Linked DNA regions of Homo sapiens. The protein of the gene in region 2 purifies or fractionates together with the protein of the main gene of each other region. This does not show direct contact. Each region holds a gene or a part of one and is shown on either strand. Other genes may lie near its edges.

Region 1 (3,899 bases), on a different chromosome or scaffold from region 2:
TTGTATTTTTAGTAGAGACGGGGTTTCACCTTGTTGGTCAGGCTGGTCTCGATCTCTTGACCTCGTGATCCGCCCGCCTCGGCATCCCAAAGTGCTGGGATTACAGGCGTGAGCCACCGCACCCGGCCTCTGTCTTAAACATCATAAAAACATAAGAACCCAAAAAAGATGGAGGGGAGTGCGCCCTTAGCTGCCCCAAACTGGCGTGGTGGGAGGCAGGGCAATTGGTCTAGTTTTCTGAGCCGTAGGATTAGGGCTCTGGGTGAGGCCAGAGTCCCTAAAGTTGTACCCATATCTGCGTGTTTGTATTTCCTGTTTGTAATTCCTCCTGTTTGTACTTTTTGTCTCTTATACGGTACACTTAAAGTTTCTCCACAAGGTGTTTCAGCATAAAGTACTCAAAAACTAAAAACGTTTAATTTCATTATTAGGTTAAGTGTGTAAAAAATGCCCCATCAAGGTTCTTGTACAAACTCCCATTATTCTCCCAGACTCCGAAGTGGCACTCCAGAATAATTTTACGTGGGTTAGCATCTTTTATAAAACGGGCAGGCAGAGCGGCTTATGAAATTAACCTTGGAAACCACGCGGCCACTCTTTCGGGAAATGCCTCCTATTTATGTTTACATGGGCCAGCAAGAGAATCCAAGGTTGGAAAGGTCATTCCTCACTACAGAGGCTCATCGCAATCACAGTTCCGTCTCCAAATTCGAGTTTTGGGTGTGAAGAGTTTATAAAGTCCAGCCGCTGTCCTCGCAGTGTTTGGGGTTAGCGGAGGGAGAGCTTGTTTGCGACCAAACTTGCCGCGCGGGGCGGCCGCTTGCAGGAACACTGCGGCCTTGTGCGCTCGGCGGTCTGAGCTCCTGCGAGGCCGAGAACGACGCCTAGCGCCCAGCGGCCTCCGCGAACAAAAAGCGACCGGTCGGAAGGTGCTGGCCCAGCCGCCCCTGGCGCTCGAGCCCGAATCCGGCCACAGACCATGAAGGGACGCCCGGCACCACGTGCGCGGGGATCCGCGGACGGGACGCTCCCCGGCACCTCCGGGGCTGGGCCGGCACCGCACGGTCCCACCCAGACAGTAGCTGCCCCGGGCCCCCAAAACAGCCGCTCCTAGCTCCTCCCTCCCAGCTCTGCGGTGGCCCAAGCCGCCCTCCGCGCGCTTGACCCAGAACAGTACGGAGTTCTGCACGAGCCGGGGGTGGGGCCTGTCTCAGCGCGCGGCGGTGGGGCGGGGCTTGGACACGGGCCCGGCTCAACTTGAGGGAGGCGGGGCTCGAGGCTCAGAGGAGTTGGAGCCCGCTCTGCGCGCTGCGGGACGGGGCACGGCGGAGCAGGGTTGGGTCCGCCTCGAGCGGGGAGGGTGATGCTGCACCACAGGGGCGGGGCTGGAGGTAAAGCGCGGAGCGGAGAGGGACCAGGCTCGGCACTGATTTGTGTTCAGGGCTAGCCCAGAGGGGCGGGGCCAGGTACGGGGCGCAGCCGGGAGCGGGAGGGGCGGTGCAGGACGGGGCCGGGCACGGCGCGGGAAGAGGCCAGGAGCAGCAACGGGTGCGGGGCGGGGCCGGGAGCGTCAAGGGGCGGGGAAGAGGGGGGAATGGGCGGGGCCGAGCTCTGCGAGGGGCGAGGTGGGGAATGCAGAGCGGGGCCGGACGCGGGAGCAGGGAGCTGGGCGGGGAGCGGGGCGGGGAGCTGGGCTGGGCTCGGCACGGGGCGGGGCGGAGGGTGGGGAGCGGAAAGCAGGACGCACGGCTCCCGCGGCCCGCTGGCTGCCCTTCCCGCCAGCGCAGGTGTGGGACGGGCGGCGGACTAGGCACAGAGCTGCGGGAGCAGGCACAGGGAGTGTGGAGCCTGGCGGCGGGACGGCGGGATCCGGTGGGAGCCGGAGTCCCGCCGAGGGGGGCTGGAGGTGGAGGGGCCCGGCGAGGCCGCGATGAAGCCGAGCGGCGAGGACCAGGCGGCGCTGGCGGCCGGCCCCTGGGAGGAGTGCTTCCAGGCGGCCGTGCAGCTGGCGCTGCGGGCAGGACAGGTGAGCGCCACGGCTGGGCTCGGAAGTCCGGGCGGAGCAGAAGCGCGTGGGCCTTGGGAGCCGCCTGGAGTGGCGGGGTCCTGGCGCGCAGCCGGCGGGCGCCCAGGGTCCGCACCCGAGGGCGCGGGGCGCGGAGCGGTGAAAGGAGCCTTTGTGCTGGTGTCCTGGACACACCTCCCGCGCCCTTCTCCAACTCCCGGAGCCCTGGCGGCGAGCCCCTCTGCTTTGGAGTTCAGCGGCTAACGTGACCTTTGCGTTTGAGTGAGTGGTCAGAATGTAGAAATCTCTCCAGGGGTAGCGTACGGGGCTGTTGATTTTTAAGGACCTATGAACGGATTCAGCTCGCGGTAGGAAGCCCGGGGCTAAGCCCCAGCCGCGTGGGGATCTGGCTGGGCTGCCGTTTGATTGTCCTGGCTGCAGCATCCTCAACCCAAACTTACTCTGACCCACACCCTGAAAGTGGCTCAGCTCCGCGACGGCCACGGACTCAGAGTTCAGGAGGAACTTGTTACACTGCCCGGAAGGATGAAAACCGAGCCGCAGAGCTACCGAAAACCAGCGAGCAGAGTTTAAAATGGAGTGCAGTTCCTCTCTTCTCTTTTTCATTTTTGTGATTGTTCCTTCCACTTTCCTCAGTACCTTTAGCAGTGCCTGACACACCGACGGTAGTGGTAGGCAAGCGAGTGTTGGTTCTCCCAGGACTGTAAGATGGCTTACTCCATGTTTGTCTCTTAGGATGTGATTGTGGGCCGGGCGCAGTGGCTCACGCCTGTAATCCCAGCACTTTGGGAGGCCGAGGCGGGTGGACCACTTGAGGTCAGGAGTTCGAGACCAGCCTGACCAACATGGTGAAACCCCGTCTCTACTGAAAATACAAAATTAGCTGGGCATGGTGGCGCGTGCCTTAGTTCCAGCTATTTGGGAGGCTGAGGCAGGAGAATCACTTGAACCTGGGAGGCGAAGGTTGCAGTGAGCTGAGATCGCGCCATTGCACACCAGCCTGGGCAACAAGAACAAAACTCCGTCTCAAAAAAAAAAAAAAAAAGTGATTGTTTTCGGGGATTTTAGAGACAGGAGGTGTGCTGAGAGCAGATTGGCCTTTTATATTCAAACATTTGTTTTCTTTTTTGAGGTCTGACAGTCCGAAAATGCTCTACCAGTTTCCCTAGATGTTGAAATCGGACTGTTATCAATCTTAAATTTGAAGTGAGTCGTCATAAAGTGGATAGTGCTTTACCTTGGTGCAAATCCTCTAATCCTGTTTAAAAATTAATCTGCAATACTAAGTAGACTCATTTTTTGTTGAAGGGCCTTCCTTCCCTTTGTAGTTTGAAGAACCCAAGCCTCAGACCGTAAAGAATGAATGAATTTAAGAGTGTTGCGAAACTCCACCCTTTGACCTTTCCCTCCTGTAGGAAAAGGAGGACCCTAAACCTTCCTGCAAGGCAGATGAAGCTTGTAGCTTCAGTGCAAGCGTTCTTCCTGGAAAGCAGAGCTGCTGTGTGCATGGAACACGGGTTCTCCTTCCATCCTTCCCTGCCTCCCAGCTTTCCTTCCAGAGCAAGCATCAGCCAGATATTTAGGAACTTTTAGGTTCTACTGTAAAACTTTTCTTCCTTGAGGCAGTGAAAAGCCAGCTTAGGATTCAGACATTGCTGTGTAAACCCTGGCGAGCTAAGTTAGGAGTTTCTGTGGTTTTCAAATTTAGATCCTTGAAGAAACAGAAGATTTTAAAATTTTATGTTATTATTTAACAAATGTGCATAAAGAGCTTGCAATAGAGCAGGAACAGTTCTAAGGCTCCTATGACTTTTAACTTAAGAGATATTTTATGTTTTTGCAACTTGCCAGCAACAAAAAAAGCTTTTTTTAA
Region 2 (3,899 bases):
GGGAGGCAAAGGGGAGGGGGCAGCCAGGCCGGAGTCAGCCCTCCGCTGGCTAAGGACCTGAAGCCAACAGTCACAGAGAAGTGCAAACAGGCGGGCAGGGAAGGTGCAGCCCGGCGCCTACGTCTGCCCAGAGCCCCCTCCCAGGCCCCGCCAAGCTGGGAATAGCTCTTCCGCCCTCAGGAGCCCCTGAGTGCTGGGAAGAGGCCGGAAACCCGAGGAGTGTACCGGGAACCCAAGGGGGCCTCCAACATTGCCATTGCCTGTGCCCCCATTAGCACCCCTGGACGGCCTCGACCGGACGGGCGACCCCACCCAGCAGGGAGACGGTCACCCCACCGCCACCACCCACCTGGGACCCTGCGCCCGCCCCAGTTCTCAGCCTGGACTGCCCCTCCTGCGGGAAGCCCAAGCCCTCCTTCTCAACAAGAACCCTACTCTACACGCCTCCCCCACTCAATCCCTCCATCCTTCCCTCCATTCTCGGGGGGCTTTGGCTCAGACCTGAGATTGAGCCCTGACTGGTCCCCACTCCCTCTGTGACCCCTGCCAGGCGATTTCACCGCCCCACCCGAGTTTCCTCATCTGTCAAAGGGGACAGGAGCGGTGCTGCGTCGCAGGGCTCGGACGCTGTGCAGATGGTGCCGCGAAAATGCCAAGCGCACGGCGGGCTCAGTCCACAATAGTGCGGCTGATGGTGGAAGTGTCAGGCACGGGCCCATCTGAAATCACCTTCCCTCCCATTCCTGCCCCTGCTGATGGAACACAAACCAAATGCGCTGGCTTTGCCACTCGGTGGAACAAAGACCGATCCCCTACCTAGGGGACCCACCGTCAACCACCCTCAACCCCACCCCATGGCCCCACGCCAGGCCTAGCTCAGCTCATTGAAAACATCTACTCCCAGCCGGGCTCTGCGCCTCTTTCTTGCCCTGAAGGGACCAGCATCGAGAACTCACGGTCATCACCGAGGCCACCCAGGGAGTGCAGAGGGCGGTGGGGTCTCCAAGGAGGACCCCGAGCCCAGAGGAGGGCCAAAGGCCCGAAGGGAGGGAGAACAGAGGCAGAGAGAGGCTGGAGAAGGTAGTGGCGGAAGATAACAGGAAGCCCTGCTGAGAAGTTGGGGACTTAGACGACAATGGGACTTCGGTGGACGATTTTCAGCGTGGGGTAGATCTAAGCGGATTGTTTTTCTAAGTTCCCTCTGGCTTCAGAGTGGCAGCAAATGACAGGGGCAAGCAAGACTGGGCACAGAGAGACTGAGAAATATCAAAACAGCAAGTTAAAAAACAGTAGCTTACGTGTCTCCCGGCACGGGGCTAGCTGCCTCCTTTTACTCTCACACACCCTCTCATGCCAGAAGAAGTCAGAGCCCAGTCTGCAGATGGGGAAACTGAGGCTCCGAGAGGCCTCCTATTTGGCAGAGATTTCCCCACCTATTAAGACCCAAGGCCCTGCCTGGAGCGGGACGTCTCCGCCTCCCCCAGCACACACATCCACTCCAACCCCAGAAAACCATAGGGCCGGAGGCTTCCTTTTTAAAAATCAAAAAAGAACATTTCACTTCCGGCCTGCAAACCTGAACCGCCAGCGCAGCCTGCGGAAAGGGGGCCTGTGGGCGCGGGTGAAGTTTTTCTCCAGCGCCTAAGGCACCCCCACCCCCATCCGGGCGCAAACACCCGGGCCCAGCGCGCCCGGCGGCTCCTCCTCCCCCAGATGCGGCTAATCGCGCGGCGCCAGGACGGCTCCCCACCTCCCCCGCCGGGCCTGGCCGCCGTCCCAACCTCGAGCCACAGCTGGCGCGGCCAGGCCCGGCGGGGGGTGGCTCTGCTTCCCGCGTGCGACGCCCCCCGCGCCTCGCCCCACCGCCCGGCGAGTCCCCCGTCCAGGGCTCCCGCCCAAAGGCAAAAGCAGCGGGGAGGGCGGGAAGAGCTTCCCCTGCACGCAGAGAACAGGTGGCCAGGCGGGAAGTACTACCCGACGTCCGCCTAGAATCCTTGCCGCTGTTGCCACACCCACCCCTTCCCCTGGGGAGGAGCAACCCGCGTTCCCCAAACAGGCCCCGAGAAACCCAGCCCGGAGCCCTCCTCTGCCGAGCTAGAAGACCCTGCAGGATGGGGGACGATGGAGGCAGAGGAGGCCGAGGCCCCACCCCTGCGGCTCCCGGGGCCGCGGGCCAGGGGCGCCTATCCTGGGGTCCCCGAGAAGAGCTCCCTACCCTGCAATCCGTTCTGCTCCGCCAGCCGCTTCGCTCCGACTGAGAGCGCGGAGCTGGGGAGGGGGCGTGGCCCGAGGGGGGGTGGGGCGCCGATCCCCGCCCCCAGGAGCTCCCGGCCAATGGGGCTGCGGGAGGGAGCCCGGGACGGTGGGGGCGGGCGGGGCGGGAGTGGCCCGGACAGGACCTTTGTGTCCGCGCCTTAGACTGGCGGGAGAGCGGAACGCAGAGCGCGGGACGTAGGGGCCGGGGCGGGGCGGGGCGGGGCGGAGCTGGGCTGCACCCACCAGCAGAAAACGCCCCTGCAAAGTGGGGGAACTGTGTCCCTGCGCCCGTGCAGTTCCTTCCCCTCGCCACGCGCGCCAGGTGCGGCTCCCACCTGCCTTTGGCTCTAAAATCTGTATAATCCCGGAGGGTGTCACTTTTAGCAGAAAGGAAATAAAGGAATGAAAAGAGAGACGGAAGAAAACAAGCAAAAAACAGAAAGGAGGAAAAGGGAAAGAAAAAATACACACGCACACACACACCAGAAAAACAGGGTTTTGTTTTCTCGTTGGGGATTTTGATTTTGTTCTCTTCTCTTGTTTCATTTCTAGCCTTCCTTGAGTCCTCTGTTTTTGGAGGTAAAAAATGTTACCTCTGTTTTGCAGGAGAGGAAACTGAGGCACAGAGAGGCGACCAGCCCATGGGCACGGCCAGTCGAGAGCAGCCCCTGAAGGCGAGCCTAGATCCCGGGACCAGGGTCAGCTTGGTATTTGAGGGGCGCGGGGAAGGAGAGAGGTCCCCGGAGCTCGCCCGGGACAACAGGGCCCCCGGAGGCGGCGGTGAGGACTGTGCCTGCCTCACTCTGCAGCCCCTATTGGGGCCACTGGGGAAAAGGCCCAGCAGCGAAACCAACTAGTCCAAGCCAGGCAAGGAACCGTCCTAGACGGCTGGTGGGAACAACCGCGCAGCTGCTGTGGAAAAAGCCCGGCGGTTCCTCAAACCACGAGCCCTGGAGTCTCCATAAAACCCATCAACTCCACTCCTAGGTGTCTGCGCGCCCAAGAGAAATAAAAATGTTTGTCCACACAAAAATTTACTTGAGGCCGGGTGCGGTGGCTCACGCCTGTAATTCCAGCTCTTTGGGAGGCCGAGGCAGGAGGATCACTTGAGCTCAGGAGTTGGAGACCAGCCTGGCCAACATGGCGAAACCCCGTGTCTATGAAAAATACAAAAATTTGCCGGGCTTGGTGGCGGGTGCCTGTAATCCCAGTTACTTGGGAGACTGAGGCAGGAGAATCACTTGAACCCGGGAGGTGGAGGTTGCAGTGAGCCAGGATCATGCCACTGCACTCCAGCCTGGGCGACAGCGAGTCTCCGTCTCGGGGGGGAAAAAAAGTTAAAAATAAATAAATAGGCCGGGCGCGGTGGCTCACGCCTGTAATCCCAGCACTTTGGGAGGCCGAGGCGGGCGGATCACGAGGTCAGGAGAACGAGACCACGGGGAAACCCCGTCTCTATTAAAAATATTAAAAATTAGCCGGGCGCGGTGGCGGGCCCCTGTAGTCCCAGCTACTCGGGAGGCTGAGGCAGGAGAATGGCGTGAACCCGGGAGGCGGAGCTTGCAATGAGCCGAGATAGTGCCACTGCACTCCAGCCTGCCTGGGCGACAGAGCAAGACTCCATCTCAAAAATAAATAAATAG

The links.
Region 1: the proteins of CARHSP1 (region 2) and IMPA2 fractionate together in Homo sapiens (co-fractionation; one large-scale study listed by BioGRID). This does not show direct contact.

What each region holds. Positions count from the first base shown.
Region 1 is NC_000018.10:11,979,740-11,983,638, forward strand, and holds the start of IMPA2 (inositol monophosphatase 2), read left to right. Parts: upstream 1-1,767; 5' UTR 1,768-1,930; coding exon 1,931-2,026; intron 2,027-3,899. UniProt on the Homo sapiens protein: Phosphatase that can use myo-inositol monophosphates, myo-inositol 1,4-diphosphate, scyllo-inositol-1,4-diphosphate, glucose-1-phosphate, beta-glycerophosphate and 2'-AMP as substrates in vitro.
Region 2 is NC_000016.10:8,866,751-8,870,649, forward strand, and holds the start of CARHSP1 (calcium-regulated heat-stable protein 1), read right to left. Parts: upstream 2,257-3,899; 5' UTR 2,216-2,256; intron 1,970-2,215; exon of another isoform or gene 1,782-1,969; intron 1,652-1,781; exon of another isoform or gene 1,299-1,651; intron 679-1,298; exon of another isoform or gene 502-678; intron 1-501. UniProt on the Homo sapiens protein: Binds mRNA and regulates the stability of target mRNA. Binds single-stranded DNA (in vitro).